Homo sapiens: one gene and its partners. The protein of the gene in region 3 interacts with the protein of the main gene of each other region in a pairwise test. Each region holds a gene or a part of one and is shown on either strand. Other genes may lie near its edges. The genes, in order: ZC2HC1A, PLEKHA2, EGLN3 and MAPK6.

The links.
Region 1: the proteins of EGLN3 (region 3) and ZC2HC1A interact in binary tests that used the Homo sapiens proteins (3 or more experiments, as listed by UniProt).
Region 2: the proteins of EGLN3 (region 3) and PLEKHA2 interact in binary tests that used the Homo sapiens proteins (3 or more experiments, as listed by UniProt).
Region 4: the proteins of EGLN3 (region 3) and MAPK6 interact in binary tests that used the Homo sapiens proteins (3 or more experiments, as listed by UniProt).

What each region holds. Positions count from the first base shown.
Region 1 is NC_000008.11:78,669,083-78,676,120, reverse strand, and holds part of ZC2HC1A (zinc finger C2HC domain-containing protein 1A), read right to left. Parts: intron 1,078-7,038; exon of another isoform or gene 335-1,077; coding exon 258-334; exon of another isoform or gene 32-257; coding exon of another isoform or gene 17-31; intron 1-16.
Region 2 is NC_000008.11:38,946,315-38,953,352, reverse strand, and holds part of PLEKHA2 (pleckstrin homology domain-containing family A member 2), read right to left. Parts: intron 2,504-7,038; coding exon 2,363-2,503; intron 1,188-2,362; coding exon 1,041-1,187; intron 718-1,040; coding exon 649-717; intron 57-648; coding exon 1-56. UniProt on the Homo sapiens protein: Binds specifically to phosphatidylinositol 3,4-diphosphate (PtdIns3,4P2), but not to other phosphoinositides. May recruit other proteins to the plasma membrane.
Region 3 is NC_000014.9:33,923,694-33,927,079, reverse strand, and holds the end of EGLN3 (prolyl hydroxylase EGLN3), read left to right. Parts: intron 1-46; coding exon 47-120; intron 121-1,157; coding exon 1,158-1,189; 3' UTR 1,190-2,853; downstream 2,854-3,386. UniProt on the Homo sapiens protein: Prolyl hydroxylase that mediates hydroxylation of proline residues in target proteins, such as PKM, TELO2, ATF4 and HIF1A. Target proteins are preferentially recognized via a LXXLAP motif.
Region 4 is NC_000015.10:52,022,200-52,029,237, reverse strand, and holds part of MAPK6 (mitogen-activated protein kinase 6), read right to left. Parts: intron 1,600-7,038; exon of another isoform or gene 1,365-1,599; intron 1-1,364. UniProt on the Homo sapiens protein: Atypical MAPK protein. Phosphorylates microtubule-associated protein 2 (MAP2) and MAPKAPK5.

The DNA of each region.
Region 1 (7,038 bases), on a different chromosome or scaffold from region 3:
GTTTGTTTTTGGTAAGAGTCTCGTAAAATGAGGAATACCTTTAAACTTTAACAGAAGAGTTCTGAAGACCAAACTCTGAAGGAAAGAAAGCATTCTGGAAGAATGGCATAGCTGAAATCAAGACCCTTGAACAAAGAATAGTACCCATTAACTCTTCAAAAACTATTCCACGTAAATTCTTCCCATGAGAATTGACCAGAATTATTGAACAATTACAGATCTGTAAAACCATAAAGGTACAAAATCAGTCTACTCACTAATGCTACTGGAAAGAATGTTCTTCCACAAATCTTGCAAGGTAACAATTCTCCAACTTGGACAACACCTCCATTCTCTAAAACAGGAAGGAATTTAATAAATAATTTATATAACTTGAAATTGTGAAACTTCACATTTTAATGTTTTCTCTTAGTTTTATAGGTAAATTATCAGTTTTTGTGAAAAATGTTTTACTGCATTTTGAAATAAGCAAAATTATCTATGAAAAGGAGCATAATACTTAGTTATCAGTGGTGAAAAAGGTCAGGATAAATATGGAGGAGTCATGATTTAAAGATATCCAAACTGATACTGCTGGAAATATCTAGTTTTCTTGTAATTATTTTAAGCAAATCAATTTGTCATATTCTCTTAACTTATAGGCTATCTCTATGGTAAATTACTACATTTTAAGAACAAAATTTATCTTATTAATTTCCAAGGCATGAAGAAATACCATTAGTGATGAGTTCAGTGACTTCCTGAGATGATTTGAAGAATCTAGAATAAAACGAATCTTACTCTGTTTACCACCAAACAATAGAAAGTACAATGCTATAAGATTAAGATCACCTAGTTATGCAAATTACATGTATTATGTGAATTATTATTTTATACATATAATACTTATATTAAGAGTCAGTGGACTAGTAAATGGAGATATTCTGACCTTACAAACAAAATTAAATAAAGAGGTAGCTACAACTTTCACTCAATTATTAATAAAATTAATATAACTATCATGTAACTGAATACAACAAATGTTATTACTAAAAAGAAAAAAAAAGAAACTACAAAAAAAGAAACTGCATTCTTTGTGATTCTGCATAATTCATTTTGTCATTTTATTTTATTTCCAAATATCAAACATAAACTTGTTTTCATAGCTATAATTTCCTAAAAATGATACTTAAACATGTAACATGTTCCCCATAGTTTCTGCTGAATATTTTAGAGATGCTAAAATTCTTTTATCATATGAAAGACAAATAGAAAAACATTTTTCTTTAGAAGTAACAAACTAATTTTAAAAAGTACAATTATATAACTCCATATAACCTGATCCAAGACATTTAGTGAGTTCACAGAGAACTAAACAGGCAAACCAAAATAGATATTGGTAAGAATGCATTCAAATACAGTAACAGAAGAACTGTTTTGTTTTCTCATTTCTTACTCCACTGCCCTACTTGACTGGTGGATAGTGATTACTTTTCATCTCAGATGGAGGCAATGTTGTGTAGTAGCAGTTAAGCAGTCAACACTACAAAAGCAAAGCTAAGATTTGCCTGACTTGTCCTTCTCCAACACCAGGAGCTAAGTTATTTAGGGAGGGCAATCTCATTTATCTGGATCACTTAAGTCCACTAACAATCCAGAGTTACTAAATGGAAACCATTAGGTTCATTTAGATAAGACAGTCTTCAAAATGATGGTCTCAGTAACATCACACGCTAACTAATCTATTAAGCTTGCTTATAGTTTTAACGTATTCCTTTAAATACTAAGCAATGATTTTAAAATTCATCAATACAAAATATTAAAAAGCACCACATATTATACTTGCTTAAAAGTGTATTTGCTTATCTACTTCTTAGATGACAAAGCAAAATCTTATAAAAATTAACTATTGACAAAAATGGATTCAGCACATAGAAAAACCACGTACCAAGCATGTACTAAGTAATATTAACACAAGGACAGAATAACACAATTATTGCTCTCATAAAGCTAACATAATCTATATTATTTACTTATTAAATAGATCTAAGAACCAAATCAACTCCTATTTTTCATACAAAAAATTAAAACATAAAGCAACCAAATATTACCATATAATAATATCCAGTTCTTGACATTAATTTCCACAAGTTATCAAACATGTTTAAAATGTTTTTTTAAAAAACGAAAATTATTATCACTATAAGGCATAAACAGATACAATACCATTTTAAAATAATGCTATTTGGGGATAATTTAAAAGCAATTATCCCCCAAAGAAATATTGTTTAGAGAAGAATGTCATTACTTCACCCAAAATAAAGATATATATAAAACACATATATAAATTTATAATGTCCTCTAATATTAGCTGGTCATAGAGCATAGCACTATAATTGACAAAATATGGCATGTGCATGTGTGTTGATGTCAAGACCTACGGAGGGAACTTCTACCCGGTAGCAAGGTAACAATTCTCCAATTTGGACAACGCTTTCATTCTCTAAAACAGAATACCATCTCACGCCAGTTAGAATGGCGATCATTAAAAAGTCAGGAAACAACAGATGTTGGAGAGGATGTGGAGAAATAGGAACACTTTTACACTGTTGGTAGGAGTGTAAATTAATTCAACCATTGTGGAAGTCAGTGTGGTGATTCTTCAAGGATCTAGAACCAGAAATACCATTTGACCCAGCAATCCCATTACCGGGTATGTACCCAAAGTATTATAAATCATTCTACTATAAAGACACATGCACACGTATGCTTACTGCAGCACTATTTACAATAGCAAAGACTTAGAACCAACCCAAATGCCCATCAATGATAGACTGGATAAACAAAATGTGGCACATGTCTACCATGGAATACTATGCAGCCATAAAAAAGAATGAGTTCATGTCCTTTGCAGGGACATGGATGAAGCTGGAAACCATCTTTCTCAGCAAACTAACACAGGAACAGAAAATCAAACACCGCATGTTCTTATTCATAAGTGGGAGCTGAACAATGAGAACACATGGACACAGGGAGGGGAACATCACACTCCAGGGCCTGTCAGGGGGTGGGAGGCAAAAGGAGGGAGAGCATTAAGACAAATACCTAATGCATGTGGGGCTTAAAACCTAGATGACAGGTTGATGGGTGCAGCAAACCACCATGGCACATGTATACCTGTATAACAAGCCTGCACGTTCTGCACATGTAGCCCAGAACTTAAAGTAAAATTAAAAAAAAAATTAAAAATAATTTATGTAGTTTAAATTGTGAAACTTCACATTATAATGTTTTCTTTAGTTTCATTGGTAAGTTGTCAGTTGCTGTAAAACAAATTTCTTACTGTAATTTGAAGTAAGAAAAATTATCAATTAAAATGGGCTTAAGAGTTACCAGTGGGCAAAAAGACCAGAATAAACACAGAAAAGTCATAATTTAAGGATAACCAAGCTGATTAGTTGGAAATATGTAGTTTTCTTGTAATTATTTTAACCAAATCAATTTGTCATGTTCTTTTATCTTAAAGGTTATCTCTACGGTAAATTACTAAACCTTAAAAACAAAATTTATCTTATTAATCTCCAAGGCATGAAGAAATACTGCTGGTGATCAGTTAAGTGACATACTGAGTTGATCTGCAGAGTGTAGGGTAAAAAAAATCGTTTTCTCTTTATCACCAGATAATAGAAAGCATACTGCTATAAGGTTAAGATCACCTAGTTATGCAAACCGCATGTATTATTTGAATTGTTATTTTATACATATGATACTTATATTAAGATTAATTGGACCAAGGGGTTAAAATATTCTGACCTCACACACACAACTAATTAAATAATAAAGTGGCTGTACCTTTCTCTCAATTAAAATAATCATCATGTGCCTGGATATAAATTTTATTACTAAAATAATTTTTAAAAAAATATTAATAGAATCTTCTACCCAGATCATGATAAATACCTTAGGCCTCAGAGTCAAAAGCCACATTTTGCTCTAATTAAATTCATTAAAAGACATGACAGTATAGTTGAAAAAGCACTGGAATTTGTCTTACATTATCTAACTTCAAGTCCCCAGCTCTGTCACTGAGAACTATGAGTCCTCAGGCAAGATACTTAAGCTCTCTAAGGTTTAGATTTCCTTACATAAAATAAGGAAGTTAAGTTAAATGACATACGGTCCCTTTTTATCTGTAACGTACGGTAATTTAACAAAATCTACCTTAAGACTACATTAGCAAGAAAAGTACATGGAAGACATCTTTCTTACTGACTTTTTAAATAAAGTTTATATATAAGAATGATTAAACCAACTGCAGATGGTAGAACGAATGCTTCAGGTAGTGTACACCACATTAAGGAAATAACTTCCACTTATCTACACAGAGAACTGAGAACCTGAAAGGACCTACAGCAAAGAACTCCTTGTTAGAGAAGCCTTTAAGACATGAATTAGAAAGAAATATATGATAATCATATAGGCAGACTCAGTTTAACAACAGTTAAATGAGGCTAATATCTGCTCAATTTACTTTAAAATTTCAGAGGATCAATTATTACATATAAAAATGTTTCATAACCTACAGAAATAAAAAATATTACTTTCCAAGGCATGCAGGCAATCTCCACTAACCTTTCCTAAGTGGCAAAAACTAGCAAATTTTGCAGCTTATAAAAATACAAGAGAAAGATGATATTCAGAGGGGTGATTATTGGTGAATATTATATCAGAGAGCAAATACTGTTGAAATAAGCACTCAAGGTGATGGATACAACCAAGTCAATAAAGTACTTTAATATTCTAGAACTTTTAAGAAGCCAATCTCTCCTTACAAAATCTATCTGGCACACACTGTTGATTCTGTTATGAGTTGCTTATGTTTTGCAACTTCAAAACCTGCATGATGGTAAGACTTGAAATGGTATCTTTATCTAACACTATAAGTGATGAGAAATAAAGATTTTATTTCAAATAGTTGTGACATTTTAAAATGCATACATTTAAGAACTATGAGAGAACATTTTCAAAGAAATCTTGGAAATTAAGAACAGTTCTGGCCTCCCTTGTGGCATGTCCATCTCCTCACTGCTGGTAAGTCTTATATTCTATCACCGTTCATTTGACTCCTTTAACACTCAACAAATCTTTCTTCTGAAGCACTAAATATGTTATATCACTTTCTTCCCAATATCCTTTCCAAAATCGAATTACTTTCAGATCAATATTATCCAGTGTCTCAGAAGATTTACCCTTTTCAGCTCATCCTAGAAGAGTTTTTGTCTTAACCTAGTCAATGCCTACCCGACTCAACACACAACCTTCATCCTTCACAGCATTTTAGTCACCTACACTCTAGTTCAGCAAAACTACTGCCAAAACAACCAACTCTGGACTTTAAAACACTCAAGTTTCCTCTTTAACCATAGAATTCTACCTCCTACCTTTCTCTAAGTTACTATCTTGATCTCAGAGTGACTTGCTTTTCTTAATAAGTTCATTCCTGGCTGCATGTCCTTTCCTACCCAGTCTGAACATGACCCATCATTTATACTAGGAATTATCCACGAATCCCTTGCTACATGGCCAAATGTTTGGAAAATGGTACATTAACCTAAGTTAAATGGGTTCTCTTAGAGCAGAACTCCCTTAGTCTTAAAAAAAGAAGCTTAGTATGTTGTTATTTGCCCAAATTTATTTTATCAGAAATCCTTTGTACTCCCAAAACCAATGTTCTCCACCAATGTCCTGATGAGCACATTTTTTGAAACACTAACTTACATTTTCTGCTTAGTCCTTCTCTGCCTCTCATTCACTCACTGTCTGAACTGCAGGGAGACATTATCAGGCCAAGCACTATATTGAAATACATCCATTCCGCCGAGTGCGTTGGCTCACACCTGTAATCCCAGCACTTTGGGACGTCGAGGCAGGCAGACCACCTGAGGTCAGGAGTTCGAGATCAGCCTGACCAACATGCAGAAACCCCATCTCTACTAAAAATACAAAATTAACTAGGCTTGGTGGCACATGCCTGTAATCCCAGCTACTCCGGAGGCTGAGGGAGGAGAATCGCTTGAACCCAGAAGGCGGAGGTTGTGGTGAGCCCAGATCATGCCACTGCACTCCAGCCTGGGCAACAAAAGCGAAACTCCGTATCAAAAAAAAAAAAAGAAAGAAAGAAAGAAAGAAAGAAATACATTCATTCCTTGATTCAATAAGTATTTGTTGAGCACCTAGCATGAGGCAGAAACTGTTCTAGGAGGTAGGAGTATAAGGATGATAAAAAACAAATACTCTGATCTTATAGAGCTTTCACTGATCTAACAGGGAAAAAATGAATAAAAACTAATATATAAAATGTTACATGGTGATAACCACAATGAAGGTAGAACAAAGTAAGGGGAGAAGAGATGGTCATAATGCTGTCTTGGAGAAGTATGGATAATCAGGGAAAGTTTGTTTAATAAGGACACAATAATGACATTAAAAAGGAAGGTAACGGATTACTATTTACTAATTGTCAAATCTGAAGCTCTCTTTTGAATCCCCATCCTACTGGGCCTTTCTACAGTCTGAGCCACTGCTGACAAATCTCTTTCACCTTTAAAGTCCTTTCTCTCTTGGCTTCAATGTTTCCTTCGCTCCTCCCAAGCATGCTATGTTTTACCTATACTGGACCTGCTAACATGCTTTTTGTGATTTTCGCCATCTAACAAACACACACTGAGAGGGCCTCCTATGCACTAGGTACTTAGCTAAATGTTTTACATATATTACATTATTTAATACTTAATATAATTTAGGTAGTTACATATTTAATAGCTCCATTTTTTTCATAGCAGGGAAAATAAGGGTTCAGATTAAGTAAACTGCCCAAATCATAGAGCTAAAAAGAAACAAAGCAAGGATTCAAACACAGTCCTCTCCAATATACTGTCTATTAAAATATCTGGCATCCAACTCACTACCAAAAAGCAGTAAATGCTAGATAAATTAATAAAGATAAAGAATTATACAGTAAACTAGTATACATTTATACTACGAAAAAATAAAACAAAA
Region 2 (7,038 bases), on a different chromosome or scaffold from region 3:
CATTCATGGGTCTTCAGAACATCCTTAAGAAATATGGTGCGCAGTGGTTCTCGGTCCTGGTGGAAAGAACAGAAAGACAGGTAAGTGAGGCTGTCTGTGTCATATCACGACCCAGACCAGCTGACCAATACCCCTTTCTCAGAGATGGTTGGCTAAAATCAGGTTGACAAATAATCTGGTCTCAAAATAATCAGCAAGAGAAAAAAAAATCTGGCTGGGCAGAGTGGCTCATGCCTGTAATACCAGGACTTTGGAAGGCCAAGGCTGGAGGATTGCTTGAGGCCAGGAGTTCAAGACCAGCCTGGGCAACATAGTGAAATCCTGTCTCTACAAAAAATCCACCACTGTGCTCCAGCCTGGGTGACAGGTGACAGAGAAAGACCCTGTCTCCAAAAACAAGAAAAAAGACAAAAAAATATAAGAAGAAGATGTTGTGTAGCTATGACTCTGACCACACAGCAGCTCACTGCAGAGAGGACACTTTAGTGTCACTGTAAAGATGTGTGCACAGAATGGAGATAAGACAGAGGCGCCTTTGAAGTCTTTGTGTGCCCACATCTCCACTCATGCACGCTCTCCTGTGGGTGTGCACCTATGCACCTCTTAGTTTCCATGACCTCTCAGAAGGGCAGCAAAGCTACTACAAACCTGCTCACACTTGAAGTAGCAGATGGTAAAGTCATCAAGTGCAAAGAAGCGACGTTTCCAGCTCTTCCGCTGTAATAAAAAAATAAAAGGCAGACCATTAGCGAGAGGTGCCCAGCATTGTGGAGGGTGTACTCATGCTAAGCTCCCAAGGACCCAGCCCCATGGAAGTCCGGCTCCCACATTCAGCAGGGGCAAGGGCTTCTTCATATCAGGGGCAACACCTCTGACAGGTGGGAGCCAAAGGTCAGTCCCAAAATCTCACCCTCAAAGGTGGAGGCTCCATGGAGGACTGAGGCACCTCCTGTCAATCCCCTCTCACCTCTGCTATGTCTACAGCCACTGGCTCTGAGGAGTCACCAGAACCCCAATTCAGCCCCTGTGCTGACACTCACCACATTCCCTTGCTTCACGCAGTAACCACTCTTAATGAGGGGAGGCCCAGTGGAAGCACGGCAGCCTGACGTGGGGATGTAACTCTGAGACCTTCGAAGGATGGTGTGGGACCCGGGCTCACTCCCTTCCTGCCCATCCCCACCGTTCTGCAAGGAAACAGTGTCAGTATCAGCGCCTCCCTCCCTCTATGCAGCCACAGCCCCACCTACCTCCCTCTGCCTGAATCTCTGGCCTCTTTGCCCTAAGTCAAAGAAGAAATAAATGGTGGGCACAGTGGCTCACGCCTGTAATCCCAACACTTTGGGAGGCCAAGGCAGGAGGATCGCTTGAGCCCAGGAGTTCTAGACCAGACTGGACAACACAGTGAGACCCAGTCTCTACAAAAAAATTAAAAATTGTTTTAAAATTTTTGTTTAATTTTGATTTTAAAATTTAAAAATTAAAAAAAAGAATTACCCAGGCGTGTAGTCCCAGCTACTCAGGAAGCAGAGGTTGGAGGATGGCTTCAGCCCAGGAGTCTGACACTGAAGTGAGCCATGATTGCACCACTGCACTTCAGTCTGGGCAACACAGCGAGACCTTGTCTCTAAAAAAATTAAATAACAACATGGCAAAACCCCATCTCCAACAAAAAATACAAAAAAATTTAGCCAGGCGTGGTGGCACATGCCTGTGGTCCCAGATGAGGTGGGAGGATCACTTGAGCCTAGGAAGGCTGAGGCAGGAGGATTGCATGAGCCTAGGAGGCAGACGCTGCAATAAGCCGTGATTATGTGTATATGCACTTCAGGCTGGGTGACAGAGGGACACCCCATCTCAAAAAAAAAAAAAAAAAAAAAAAACTTAAATAAATATAAATAATTAAAACAGGAAAATAAACCTTTCCTTTCTCTGTCATGCACTCTACTGGGTACTTTCACAGAACCAGCATCAGGGAGGTTGGGCCGACCCAGGAGAAAGGGAAGGATAGGGAATGTGAACCAGCAGGGACACCAGGCTGGTTTCCAGCCTTGTTTGCCATGCTCTGTCCCATTTCCTATGGTTTCACAAACCCTCATCTTCTGTGTCTCCCGTGTTCGGCACAGAACTGCACAGGCCACATGGCTTCAAGATGCAGCAGCCTCCACTTCCGCACTGCCGTCACTAACACCCATGAATGGGGATGTAACATGACCTGTACTTTCCTGATGGCTCCACTGGCACCAGCTGCCCCCCACTCCCACCCTCCTTTTCCCCAGTACAGTGCTCCGAGCACATCATGGGCACACCATGGACACTTCCACACCCCCACTCCCCCCGCAGCCCCAGTCAGGCCCCTCACCTGGCTGATGGGTGTGTGGACCACCACCCCTCCAATGATCTCCGTCTTGTAGGCCACCTGTGGCTTCTTCTCCAGGGCTGGAGGAGCTGCTAAGCTCTTGAGAACTTCAGTGGTCATGGGTAGGCCCCCACCTTTGGGAACCTGGGGTGAGCGGCAGCAACAATCAATGGGGAACAGAACATTTAGGAAACATGGGGAGCCCAAAACAGAATGGGGCTGCCGTGAGAAAAGCTCATGTGCCAAATTACAGTCAGACTTGCGTGTCCTCCCCAAGCCTTCCACAGTCCAAATCTGAATATGAGCATCTCAACCAGCAACGCCCTCCCCCTACACAGATACAAACTGACTCCAGGAATTTCTTGAGCGCCTACTTATGAGCCAGCCCTTCCCTGGCTAGAAACCAAAGATAAAGTGTCAAGCGAAACACACGTGGGTCCCCACCTTCACGGCACTTACATGCTAGTAGGGGGAATGACAAAAAAAAACGTAAAACAAACAGAGTAATTACAAATGGTGGTGAGTGGCACAAAGAAGATCAAGAGAGCTGAGGCAGCGCACAGCAGGGGACCTGCTGGAAACAGAGTGGGCAGGGAGGTCTCTAGAGGAGAAGGCAGGGAGACACTCAAACGGCAACCTGGAGGGTAAGCAGGAGATGGGGGCCAGGTCCGGGGCCTCACACCTGTAACCCCAGCACTTTGGGAGGCCAAGGCAGGAGGGTCACTTGAGCCCAGGAGTTCAAGACCAGCCTGGGGAACATAGTGAGATCCCATCTCTACTAAAAATGAAAAAAAAAATTAGCCAGGTGTGGTAGCACACAGCTGCTCAACAGGCCAAGGTAGGAGAATCTCTTGAGCCCAGGAATTGGAGGCTGAAGTGAGCTATAATCACACCACTGTACTCCAGGCTAGGTGACAGAGACCCTGTCTCGAAAAAAATACAAAATAAAAAACTAAATAAAAGGAACCAGGAACATGAAGCTGGGAGAAGGCATTCTGGGCAGATTGAACAGGTAAAAATGCATGCATGCCTTTGTAGAGACAGAACAAGGGGTCCATGAAGTCTGGAGCCAGAAGATGTGTGGTATAACCCTTCACCTCTCACGAACCACCTGAGAGACCTTTGGCAACCATCAAACCTTTCTAGGCCTAAACCGTCTCATGCATAAAATGAAAAGTGGAATAATATTTATCATAACCATCGTTGTGGTTATCAAATGATAGAGTATATTAAATGCTTTAGAAACACAACTAAAAAGAAAAACATATTACAAAATATTATAATTAAGGCTTCCCACGTTGTTACTAATAATTATACACAGAGCCCTTTTGGAAGAATGAGCTATCTTTGCTCTTCCTTGACAGAGATATGGTACCACAGCTGATCAAATCATCATAAAATTTTTATTGTTAGTTGGAAATCACAGGCCAGAGGTTGCAAATTGGTGGCCCACCCACTGACTTTGCCCAAACAATGTTTTGTTAGTCACATGCAGTATTTTTTAAAATCTGCATCTAAGTTTTGGGATATTTCACAGAAAAATCCAGATTTTCAGCTATGCAGCAGTTCCCTTTTAGATAGAAAATACATTGTGTTTGCACAGTCCCTACCATTCTCCCCAGCAGAACGGGAGAGGCCAGGGGTCAAATGTCACTTATCCTCATTCCTGTTGCCCTGTTTCCTCCTCCTTGCCCACTTCACTCATTTATACTAGAGTCTGCAAATGCTGAGGAAATCTTTCATTTTGTTAGAAAGAAAAAAAAAAAAAGAGGTCCAGAACAGTTGAGTCATTTACCCAAAGCCAGGATTAACAGCTGAATGTCGGCCAGGCACAGTGGCTCATGCCTATAATCCCAGCACTTTGGGAGGCCGAGGCGGGCGGATCACCTGAGGTCGGGAGTTCGAGACTAGCCTGACCAATATAGTGAAATTCCGTCTCTACTAAAAATACAAAAATTAGCTGGGCGTAGTGGCGGGCACCTGTAACCCCAGCTACTCAGGAGGCTGAGGCAGGAGAATCGCTTGAACCCAGAAGGCAGAGGTTGCAGTGAGCCGAGATCACGCCATTGCACTCCAGCCTGGGCTATAGAGCGAGACTCCGTTTCAAAACAAAAACAAAACAAAAAAACAGCTGAATGTCTACTAAACTCTGACTTCCCACCAGTGCCCCAGCATCACAATGCCCCACCTTCAGGAGAACGCAACACCCTACATCTATCTGCCGGGACGTCACCGGGACTTCGAGAGAAAAGCTAAGGTCCTCTCCCACTTCTACAGCTTTCAGAGTAAGAAAGACCTAAGGATCCGAGCTCAGAGCTATATGACAGCCCTGTCATTTGGTGTCTGTTCAAAACAATAAGAGCACCCTGATTATGCTGGGCCCCCACAAAGACAACGAGACCTTCTCTTCCTGGACTGCACACTCAGTTTACATAGACAAGGACGTCCTCTGCCCCCTCCCTACCCCTCCAAATCAGGCCAGAAATTCCGCCTTCTATTTTCTTTCTGGCTGAGAGATACCAGCAGTTACAGTTTCTCTGGGCCACCATTCAGTGCCAGGCAATGCACTGATAAGCTCTTTGCTGCATTATCACTAATCTTATCAACCAGGCATGATTTTCTCCACTTTATAGATGAGGTCAACTCAAGCTCATTAAAATTAAGTGATTTGGCTCTAGGACTGCCTGACTCCTTGTTGCTGCATGTCACGACCTACCTAAGCTACTCTTTCTCACTTTCTGTGAGTTCTGTTATTATGTAACCACATTTTTAGGGATGTTGATTTTTAGTTGATATTTAGTGATTAAAATCACCATGGAACTGCAGAAATTTCCCCTAAATGACCCAGATGAATTCCTGAAACCCAGCAAAGAAGGAGGGAAATAACAATTTTTTTTTTTTTTTTTTTGAGATGGAGTCTTGCTCTGTCGCCCAGGCTGGAGTGCAGTGGCGCGATCTCGGCTCACTGCAATCTCCAGCTCCTGGGTTCAAGTGATTCTCCTGCCTCAGCCTCCCAAGTAGCTGGGATTACGGTGCATGCCAACATGCCCAGCTAGTTTTTATATTTTTAGTAGAGACGGGGTTTCACCATGTTAGCCAGGCTGGTCTCGAACTCCTGACCTTGTGATCCACCCGCCTCAGCCTCCCAAAGTGCTGGGATTACAGGCGTGAGCCACCGCGCCTGGCCAGAAAGTAACTTTTTAGAGTTCCCAGTGGCCAGAAAAGGAGGCACAGAAGCTTGGCTGCTGTGTTTCCTCTCAAAATCCCGAAGAACACTGTTTGTCAGTGCTTATGCTCCGGTGTCATGCAGTGCTTCAGATCAACATGCAGAGCCTTTCCAAAGCTGTTTACACTACCTGAGACTTCTTTAAGAGATGGGCTTTCACTCTGTTGCCTAGGCTGAAGTACAGTGGTGCGATCATAACTCCCTGCAGCCTCAAACTTCTGGGCTCAAGTGATCCTCCTGCCTCAGCCTCCTAAGTAGCTGGGAATACAGGTGTAAGCCACCAGGCCTGGCTAATTTTTTTATTTTTTATTTTTTTTGAGGTGGAGTTTCACTCTTGTCGCCCAGGCTGGAATGCAATGGCACGATCTCGGCTCACTGCAACCTCTGCCTCCCAGGTTCAAGTGATTCTCCTGCCTCAGCCTCCTGAGTAGCTGGGACTACAGGCGTGTGCCACCACGCCCAGCTAATTTTGTATTTTTAGTAGAGACGGGGTTTCACTATGTTGGCCACAGGTGATCCACCCACCTCGGCCTCCCAAAGTGCTGGAATTACAAGCGTGAGCCACTGCACCCAGCCATCCATCCTCTCTCTTTTCATCACTCTCTCTTTTCACGGGTTTACCAAGGTTTATCAGAATAAGAAGCTAATCAGCAAAAGTGCTTATAGGAGACTCAATTACACTCAGGTTGGGTCTAGCAATATGAATACTATATACGTGTACAAATTTCTTCTATACAGTTGTTCACAGGAACCCTGAGAAATCTGGGAGGATAATTTGCTGCAGCATGTAATAGTCACTACTGGAAGCCCCTCAAACATAAGCATTTCTGACTGTATGATACAGAAACAAACTTTTCAGCAAAGAAGCCATGATCTATATAAGCCAGGAGTCTGCCTGTCTTATTGATTAAAAGTCTAGTTTTTTCCAAAACATAGTTTCCCCTCTCCATCCTTCCTACCCTTCTTCCTTTCTTTTTCTATATCTCTAAGGAAAAAGAAAGGAATTCTTCATTAGCCAACTCAAGGAAAAAGAGCACACTCGTAGGACAGTCCATGAACGAGCTCTGTGATGCTTTTAAACAGAAGGCTTTTCTAGGACAGGGAGGCGGATGGCTTGGACTGACCCTGCAGGCAGCCTCTGAAAGTAAGAAGAGTATCCCCCAAGCTGGGAAAAAGTTCTGACTTCCCTCCCCATATGCTTTTCCCCTTACTTGACTTTTCACAGTCACCAATCCATTTTCCAATCCTACCACATTCTGAATCAGCATCCCAGAATCACCCGAAACATGACTGATCGGGAGCCCTCCCAGGAAGCACAAAGGGGACGCTCCATGAACTTCCCCTTGAACTTGATTCAAACTCAGACTCTCAGTTCAACTTGTGTTTGGTCAGCCAAGGAAAAAGACGAGGTGGGAGAGAACTGGGTACAGACCAGGCTCCTGGGAAAGTCCCC
Region 3 (3,386 bases):
GTAGTACCATTAAATCTCTTTCCTTATATCTGCTTATCTTTCACAGATATGCTATGACTGTCTGGTACTTTGATGCTGAAGAAAGGGCAGAAGCCAAAAAGAAATTCAGGAATTTAACTAGTATGTGTTTGATAATTTTCTGTGACTTTTGATCAAGTTAATCCTTGACTTTTATTCAATTTTATGTAGTTTTAAACATGTTCTGTTCAATCTGTTACGGCTTAGCTTTATATATAATGACATCTTGATGGGTTTTATCCTGAAACCTTGGCCTTAGGGCTCTTAGAAAAATCAGAAACAATGCAAGGGGCTTCCCCTGAGAATGCCCACTGAATGTATGATGGTTTATGATAGATGGGAAATAGTTAACTTTTTCCTATTAATGTTAACCAGTCAAATGTAACATTAAATTTTGCCCATGATTTTTGGCATATTGCAAAGGAAATATAATGGAACCCAGTTATGATGGCAAAATTTATTATATTGGGTGAGACTGTGACTCTCAGTATAACAGCAGGGCTCATGTAATATAAACTGAATATAACAGCACTACTCCTATCCCTTCCAACCAGTATTAGAAGGCAGCATTTCCCAAAATACGTTGCATTAAAACACAAATCCTGCCAATTTGGTAAATTCCTGGTCCCAAAAATGTGGGAAATGTTGCATGCTGTATGCCTGTCTTAAAAAGAGTCACATTGCTCACTAGCATATTAAATTAAGGCGCTAAGAGATCCTGCAGTAAGGAAACATATATAATATTGCCTAGCCCATAACCCATTTGGACTGTATACCTCTCAAATACCAAAGTGGTCTCCAAATTGCACCCAGGAAATCTCAGTTTGTTTTCTCTTCCAGATGGCCTACACTGCTTAACTCTGATATGTGAGTGAGGCTACACTTCATACAACTTATGCTCAGCATTAGCCCAAGAGGTGCCAATGCTGGATGTAAACCCAAAGTTCCTCCACAGTCTGTGAGGCATATGGGAAAGATCCCATTGCAAAGTCAAGAGAGAATCCTTTGGCAGAGCTCTATTAGGAGGCTTATATAAGATGGGAAGTGTTTACTGGAGGCTTTTTGGTGACATTTGTGACATAAAACTCATCAGAGCTGACTCCATACCCTCTTTATTCTCCTTTCTGTCCCCAACCCAGGGAAAACTGAATCTGCCCTCACTGAAGACTGACCGTGCTCTGAAATCTGCTGGCCTTGTTCATTTTAGTAACGGTTCCTGAATTCTCTTAAATTCTTTGAGATCCAAAGATGGCCTCTTCAGTGACAACAATCTCCCTGCTACTTCTTGCATCCTTCACATCCCTGTCTTGTGTGTGGTACTTCATGTTTTCTTGCCAAGACTGTGTTGATCTTCAGATACTCTCTTTGCCAGATGAAGTTACTTGCTAACTCCAGAAATTCCTGCAGACATCCTACTCGGCCAGCGGTTTACCTGATAGATTCGGTAATACTATCAAGAGAAGAGCCTAGGAGCACAGCGAGGGAATGAACCTTACTTGCACTTTATGTATACTTCCTGATTTGAAAGGAGGAGGTTTGAAAAGAAAAAAATGGAGGTGGTAGATGCCACAGAGAGGCATCACGGAAGCCTTAACAGCAGGAAACAGAGAAATTTGTGTCATCTGAACAATTTCCAGATGTTCTTAATCCAGGGCTGTTGGGGTTTCTGGAGAATTATCACAACCTAATGACATTAATACCTCTAGAAAGGGCTGCTGTCATAGTGAACAATTTATAAGTGTCCCATGGGGCAGACACTCCTTTTTTCCCAGTCCTGCAACCTGGATTTTCTGCCTCAGCCCCATTTTGCTGAAAATAATGACTTTCTGAATAAAGATGGCAACACAATTTTTTCTCCATTTTCAGTTCTTACCTGGGAACCTAATTCCCCAGAAGCTAAAAAACTAGACATTAGTTGTTTTGGTTGCTTTGTTGGAATGGAATTTAAATTTAAATGAAAGGAAAAATATATCCCTGGTAGTTTTGTGTTAACCACTGATAACTGTGGAAAGAGCTAGGTCTACTGATATACAATAAACATGTGTGCATCTTGAACAATTTGAGAGGGGAGGTGGAGTTGGAAATGTGGGTGTTCCTGTTTTTTTTTTTTTTTTTTTTTTAGTTTTCCTTTTTAATGAGCTCACCCTTTAACACAAAAAAAGCAAGGTGATGTATTTTAAAAAAGGAAGTGGAAATAAAAAAATCTCAAAGCTATTTGAGTTCTCGTCTGTCCCTAGCAGTCTTTCTTCAGCTCACTTGGCTCTCTAGATCCACTGTGGTTGGCAGTATGACCAGAATCATGGAATTTGCTAGAACTGTGGAAGCTTCTACTCCTGCAGTAAGCACAGATCGCACTGCCTCAATAACTTGGTATTGAGCACGTATTTTGCAAAAGCTACTTTTCCTAGTTTTCAGTATTACTTTCATGTTTTAAAAATCCCTTTAATTTCTTGCTTGAAAATCCCATGAACATTAAAGAGCCAGAAATATTTTCCTTTGTTATGTACGGATATATATATATATAGTCTTCCAAGATAGAAGTTTACTTTTTCCTCTTCTGGTTTTGGAAAATTTCCAGATAAGACATGTCACCATTAATTCTCAACGACTGCTCTATTTTGTTGTACGGTAATAGTTATCACCTTCTAAATTACTATGTAATTTATTCACTTATTATGTTTATTGTCTTGTATCCTTTCTCTGGAGTGTAAGCACAATGAAGACAGGAATTTTGTATATTTTTAACCAATGCAACATACTCTCAGCACCTAAAATAGTGCCGGGAACATAGTAAGGGCTCAGTAAATACTTGTTGAATAAACTCAGTCTCCTACATTAGCATTCTAATGGTTTGATTAATATATTCCATCTTTGGCAGGAAGGGCTTGCTAGAATTTTTACACACATCTTTTTAACATTGTTGACTTACACATTTACGCTAAGAGTTTTAGAACGCTTTGGTCATAGTGTTGCTTCGTATTTGTATACCCATGAATAGGTCATTCACTGACCACTATGAATCTGAAAATTGAACAAATTATATTTTGCCCTTCCATATCCTAGAAACAACATTAGTAAAATAACATTAGTCTCAGATAGGACAGAGTGAATTCCCCTTTCGAACAATCTTGAAAAATTTCAATAGGAAAGAAAGGACGAAGTTTATTAGGAATTTTGTATTCTGTAAAATTGTAGTTATATATTTTTCATGATTTCTAATGTCATAAGAATGATAGTGACAATATTCTGAAGGAGGATCATATAGTTCCAAAAGCATGTCTTGTATTTTTCATTTTAGTCAATATGCCAAAAGATCTGACCTCCAAGGCTTTGTTTATTCCTTCCAGACAAAGGTCCTATAAGCTAAC
Region 4 (7,038 bases), on a different chromosome or scaffold from region 3:
GGTGAAACCCCATCTCTACTAAAAATACAAAAATTAGCCAGGCGTGGTGGTGTGCGCCTGTAATCCCAGCTACTGGGGAGGCTGAGGCAGGATAATCACTTGAACCCAGTAGATGGAGGTTGCAGTGAGCCAATATTGCGCCACTGCACTCCAACCTGGACGACAGCGAGACTCCGTCTCAGAAACAAAAAAAAGCATACAGTATAACAAGGTGTAAAGTAGAAGGAAAACAAGAACATATGTCTCATAAAATGAGAAGTAGATGAATAGGCCGAAAACAGTGGTCAACTATATTGAATGCTCCTACAAGAGCCTGTAAGACTAATTTAGTAAATAGAAACCACTGGCAACCTTGACTAGAGTAGTTTTAGTGGTAAGAATGGAGGCCAATCTGTAGTAGGCTGAGAAGCAAAGGGAAGTGGAGAGAGCACAAAAAGACAACTTTTGAAAACTGGCTTGGAAGAGAATCAGAGAAATGAGGCTGTAGCTAGAGAATAATGTGGAATGGCGAGAGGGCTTATAAACAAGGAAGCCACACTTAGTGCTGTCCAATAGTGTTGTCTGCAATGATAGGGATGTTCTATATCTGCACTGTCCAATAGAGCAGCCATTAGCACCATATATGGCTACTGAACAACTGAAATATGACTAGCATCACTGAGGACCTAAATTTTTTAAATTTTTCTTTTAACAGCCACACATTTCATTGCAGAAAGCACTATTGATTAGTAGCTACCATACTGGACAGTACAGCCCTAAAGCACATCTGCATATTAATAAAGATAATCCAGAAAGGGAAAAATTCATGATGTAGGCAAGAACGAGGTAAGTCCTTAAGAAGTCAACAGGCTGGCAGGGTGCGATGGCTCACTCCTGTAATCCCAGCACTTTGGGAGGCCAAGGCAGATGAATCACTTGAGGTCAGTAGTTCAAGACCAGCCTGGTCAACACAGAGACGAATCCGTCTCTACTAAAAATACAAAAATTGCCGGGCGCGGTGGTTCACACCTGTAATCCCAGCACTTTGGGAGGCCGAGGCGGGCGGATCACAAGGTCAGGAGATCGAGACCATCCTGGCTAACACGGTGAAACCCTGTCTCTACTAAAAATACAAAAAATTAGCCGGGCGTGGTGGCAGGCGCCTGTAGTCCCAGCTACTCGGAAAGCTGAGGCAGAAGAATGGCGTGAACCTGGGAGGCAGAGCTTGCAGTGAGCTGAGATCGCACCACTGCACTCCGCCTGGGCAACAGAGCGAGACTCCGTCTCAAAAAAAAAAAAAAAAAAAAAAAATACAAAAATTAGCCGGGCGTGGTGGTGGGCACCTGCAGTCCCAACTACTCAAGAGGCTGAGGCAGAAGAATCACCTGAATCTGGGACGCAGAGGCTGCAGTGAGCCAAGATCGTGCCACTGCACTCCAACCTGGCCAACAGAGTGAGACTCCATCTCAAAAAACAGTAAATAAATAAATAAATAAATAAATAAATAAAGAGAAATCAACAGGCTGAGCAGAGTGGCTCATGCCTGTAATCCCAGCACTTTTTGAGGCCGAGTCAGGATGATTGCTTGAGCCCAGCCTGGGCAACACAGGGAGACCCCGCCTATAAAAAAAAAAAAAAAAATTAAGATTAAAAAAAAAGTCAAGAGAAGACATCCAGAGCACAAATGGCACAATCTACATGGGATACAACATGAACAAAGCAAGGCATGAAATTACAGTAACGGGTAGAGATGAAGACTCAGAATATGTATTAAGCCTGATTGGAATCTTAAGCATAAAACTCAATTACAGAGGGCTATAAAATCCAAGCAGGAGGGGGAGGGTAGGTAACTTACATCTACTAAGGACCTATTATGTGACAGGCATTTTCTTTTTTTTTTTTTTTTTTTGAGAGGGAGTCTCGCTCTGTCACCCAGCCTGGAGTACAGTGGCACGATCTCGGCTCACTGCAAGCTCCGCCTGCTGGGTTCAAGCAATTTTTCTGTCTCAGCCTCCCGAGTAGCTGGGATTACAGGCATACGCTACCATGGCCAGTTTTTTCGTATTTTTAGTAGAGATGGGGTTTCACCACGCTGGCCAGGCTGGTCTTGAACTCCTGACCTTGTGATCCGCCCGCCTCGGCCTCCCAAAGTCCTGGGATTACAGGCATTAGCCACCGCGCCCGGCTGTGACAGGCATTTTCTTTTTTCAAGACAGAGTATTGCTCTGTCGCCCAGGCTGGAGTGCAATGGTGTGATCTCGGCTCACTGCAACCTCCGCCTCCTGGGTTCAAGCGATTCTCCTGCCTGGGCCTTCAGAGTAGCTGGGAGTACAGGTATGCACCACCATACTCAGCTAATTTTTTGTATTTTAGTAAAGACGGGTTTTCATCATGTTGGCCAGGCTAGTCTAGAACTCCTGACTTTGTGATCCGCCTGCCTCGGCCTCCCAAAGTGCTGAGATTACAGGCATGAGCCATCGCGCCCAGCCATGACAGGCATTTTCTAAATGACAAATTATTTCTCTCATCTCAAACTACAGTCTTGTAAATGTCATTTTACAAACAAGAGCACTGATGCTCTTTACACACACAGTAAATGCCAAGATTTGGACATAGGCCTGTGACTATAGGGTTAGAATCTTCCCACTGCATAAGGTGGGAGGTTAAGGCCAGGCACGGTGGCTCACGCCTGTAATCCCTGCACTTTGGGAGGCCGAGACGGGTGGATCACTTGAGGTCAGGAGTTCAAGACCAGCCTGGCCAACATGGTTGAAACCCCATCTCTACTAAAAACATAAAATTAGCTGGGCGTGGTGGTGCATGCCTGTAATCCCAGCTACTTGGGAGGCTGCAGCAGGAGAATCACTTGAACCCAGGAGGCGGAGGCTGCAGTGAGCGAAGATCACACCATTGCACTCCAACCTGAACAATAAGAGCAAAACTCCGTCTCAAAACAACGACAACAACAAAACAAAAAAAGGTAGGAGGTTAAGAACCACTGTTTCGGTACCTGGAATTAACATAAACAGCAGATCAATCTGGAAGTAATCAACAAGTGCCAACAAGCCTAGAGGGACTAGGCCAGAGGCAAAAACTATCCTGCCAATGCTTTCCACAGGATAACTAAGGAAAACTTAATAGCTACTTTTTAAAAATTCAAGTGAAAATACCTGTTAAGATGGAAAGAAACTGACTTGCTTACAACTTAGATTATCTACTTTATTGAACACAGATGTATCAATTAGAAAATCAGCACTGTTTTATAATACATACTGAAATAATATCTGGGCATATTAGAAAAACTAAGTCAACATACTCTCTCTCCAATTTGTACATTAAGAAAGGACAATTATTAAACTGAGTCTAACCAGTTATTAAATTACAGCTTAGATTTTAGAGTGGGCAAAGATCATCTAGATCTGTGCTGTCCATGTAACCACCAGCTACATCCAACTATTTTTATTTTTTTTTGAGACGTAGTCTTGCTCTGTCACCCAGACTGGAGTGCAGTGGCGCTCACTGCAAGCTCCGCCTCCTGGGTTCATGCCATTCTCCTGCCTCAGCCTCCCAAGCAGCTGGGACTACAGGCGCCCGCCACCCGGCTAATTTTTTGTATTTTTAGTAGAGACAGGGTTTCACCATGTTAGCTAGGATGGTCTCGATCTCCTGACCTCGTGATCCGCCCGCCTCAGCCTCCCAAAGTGCTGGCATTACAGGCGTGAGCCACGGCGCCCAGCCCCAACTATTTAAAGGAATTAAAATTAAATAAAAAATTCAATTCCTCAAGTGCACTACTTGCTCGTCAAGTATTCAACAGTCACACATGGCCAATGGCTACCTCACTGGATAGCACAGAACACTTCTATCATCATAGAAAGTTCAACTGGGCAGTGATTAGCTTCCAAATTTTCCATTTGACTTTTTTCAGAAGGGCCAGTGGAAAGAGCAACTCAGAAGACTAACGAGCTGAGCAACCATGTATGCATCATTTTAATTTTTATTTATTTACGTATTTTTTGAGACAGGGTCTCTTGCTGTTGCCCAGGCTGGAACGCTGCGGTGCGATCACGGCTCACTGCAGCCTCAACCTCCTGGGCTCAAGCAATCCTCTCATCTCAGCCTCATAAGTAGCTGGGACTAAAGGTGTGCACCACTACAACAGGCTAATTTTATTTTATTTTGTAGAGACAGGGTCTCACTATGTTGCCCAGGTGTATGCATCGTTTAGCAGTGCTTCTCAAACTGAATGCGCACTGAATGACTTGAAAATCTTGTTAAAATGCAGGTTCTTCCCAGCACGTTAGGAGGCCAGGAGTTTGAGACGAGCATGGGCAACACAGTGAGACTCCAATTCTTAAAAAAAAAAAAAAAAAAAAAAAAGGCAGTGTATGATGGCACATGCCTGTAGTCCCAGCTACTGAGGTGAGAGGATTACTTGAGTCCAGGAGTTCCAGGTGGCAGTGCGTTATGATCACACCACTACACTCCAATCCAAACTGGGCAACAGGGCAAGATTGTGCCTCTTATTTACAAAAAAAGAAGGCCGGGCGCGGTGGCTCATACCTGTAATCCCAGCACTTTGGGAGTGCTGGGCGGGCGGGCGGATCCGAGGCGGGCGGATCACAAGGTCAGGAAATCGAGACCATCCTGGCTAACACGGTGAAACCCCGTCTCTACTAAAAACACAAAAAATTAGCCAGGCGCGGTGGCAGCAGCTGTAGTCCCAGCTACTCAGGAGGCTGAGGCAAGAGAATGGCGTGAACCCAGGAGGCGGAGCTTGCAGTGAGCCAAGATCGTGCCACTGCACTCTAGCCTGGGTGACAGAGTGAGACTCCGTCTCCAAAAAAAAAAAAAAAGAAAAAGAAAAAGTAGATTCTAAGATTCTAATTCAGTAGGACCGTAGGACTGAGATGAAGTCAAGATTCTAACGTCTATCAAGTTCCCAGGTGATGCTAATACTGTTGGTCCAGAAATCACACTTTCAGTACCAAGATCTTAGATCTCTTCAGGCCTTGGTTTCCTTAGCTGTCAAACGATGTACATGAATGAAGCAAGATAATGCCCATGACCCCTCCAAAACACTAATATTTTAAAGTTTTATGATTGTACAGAATTAAATGCATACAGATTTGCACTTTCTGCAGAGGCAGACTTTTCTGAGGTAAATGCTAGGATTCTAAAAAACAAGTTTTATGATACCATTTTTTTCTGTGAAAAAAATACCAAATTTAACGAAAATCAATGGGAAATTGTATTTGCTATACAAACATTCAATCTCTGAACAATTTTTTAGAAATGGACTTAGAAGACTGACATGTATAAAAGACAAAACTTTTAGAACTCTATTGGCTGGGCGCGGTGGCTCATGCCCGTAATCCCAGCACTTTGGGAGGCCCAGGCAGGCGGATCACAAGGTCAGGAGATGAGACCATCCTGGCCAACATAATGAAACCCTGTCTGTACTAAAAAAAATACAAAAATTAGCTGGTCATGGTGGTGCGCACCTGTAGTCCCAGCTACTCGGGAGGCTGAAGCTGAAGAATCGCTTGAACCTAGGAGGTGGAGGTTGCAGTGAGCCGAGATGGCGCGACTGCGCTCCAGCCTGGCAACAGAGGGAGACAGCGTCTCAAAAACAAAAAACAAACAAACAAAAAAACTCTTAGAGAGACACACATTATTTTCCAAATACGCAGTTCATGGAGGTGAAAAAACCAATCAATGCTGGACTAGGCCCAAATCACTGTCACCTTAAAAGCATCAGCTTCACATGAAAGCAACCCCTGGAAAATGCCATTAACTACAGTAACATTGGAGTTGTTTTTGTGAAGTCTCAGTCAAGGCTCTCAGCAATAAAAATGAGCAAAATTCCCACACCACTGGCAGGTTGTAGTGTAATGTTCAACAGCCCACAAAACAGGCTGAAGGAACTAATGAAGGCAGCCAACAATGCCACACAGAATTTACTTCTGAGGCATCTTCTTTCCATTTTAACAGGGGACCTAGAGTAACACAAGGTTCAAATGTAACAAAGAACTGGATAGCAGTGGTAAGAAGGCTCAGCATTTCATAAAGCAGTACCTTGGAGACAGGAAGCAGGCTAAGATATCCAGTTATTTTGTTTGTTTTTCGGTTTTTTTTTTTTTTTTTTTTTTGAGACGGAGTCTCGCTCTGTCACCCAGGCTGGAGTGCACTGGCACAATCTCGGCTCACTGCAACCTCTGCCTCCCGGGTTCAAGCGATTCTCCTGCCTCAGCCTCCTGAGTAGCTGGGATTACAGGCACGTGCCACCACACCCAGCTAATTTTTGTATTTTATTAGAGACGGGGTTTCACCATGTTGGCCAGGATGGTCTCGATTTCCTGACCTCGTGATCTGCCTCCTCAGCCTCCCAAAGTGCTGGGATTACAAGCGTTAGCCACTGCCCCCGGCCTCAGTTTGTTTTTAAACTCTGAATTATGCACTACAGCTAATTACCTATATTTGAAAACAATGCCGAAAATACGTTAAACCTCTAAGTAATGTGATGCTCTGAAAATTTTCAATACTTTTATATTTGTATTTTTATGTTTCCTCTAGTAGGAAATTTTTTTTAAGTTTGAATTAAACTTTGTAAAAAAAAAACCTCTAGGTATAAATCATGCAATACTCTTCCAAAATAGTTCCAAAAATTTAATTCACATTAACAATACATTTTATGGGCTGGGAGCAGGGGCTCACACCTGTAATCCCAACACTCTGGAAGGCTGAGGCAGGCAGATTGCTTGAGCCCAGGAGTTCAAGAACAGCCTGGGCAACACTGTGAACATTCATCTCTACAAAAAATACGAAAAACTAGCCAGGCATGGTCGCACACAGCTGTAGTCCCAGCTCCTCCGGAGGCTGAGGCAGGAAGATCACCTGAGCCCGGGAAGTAGAGGTTGCAGTGAACAGTGATCGCACCACTACACTCCAGCCAGGGTGACAGAGCAAGACCCTGTCTCACAAAAACAACAAACACTTTACTGTCCACAAACTCCTCAAATCCCTTTGGAAAAATAAACAGTATACACAGAAAAACCA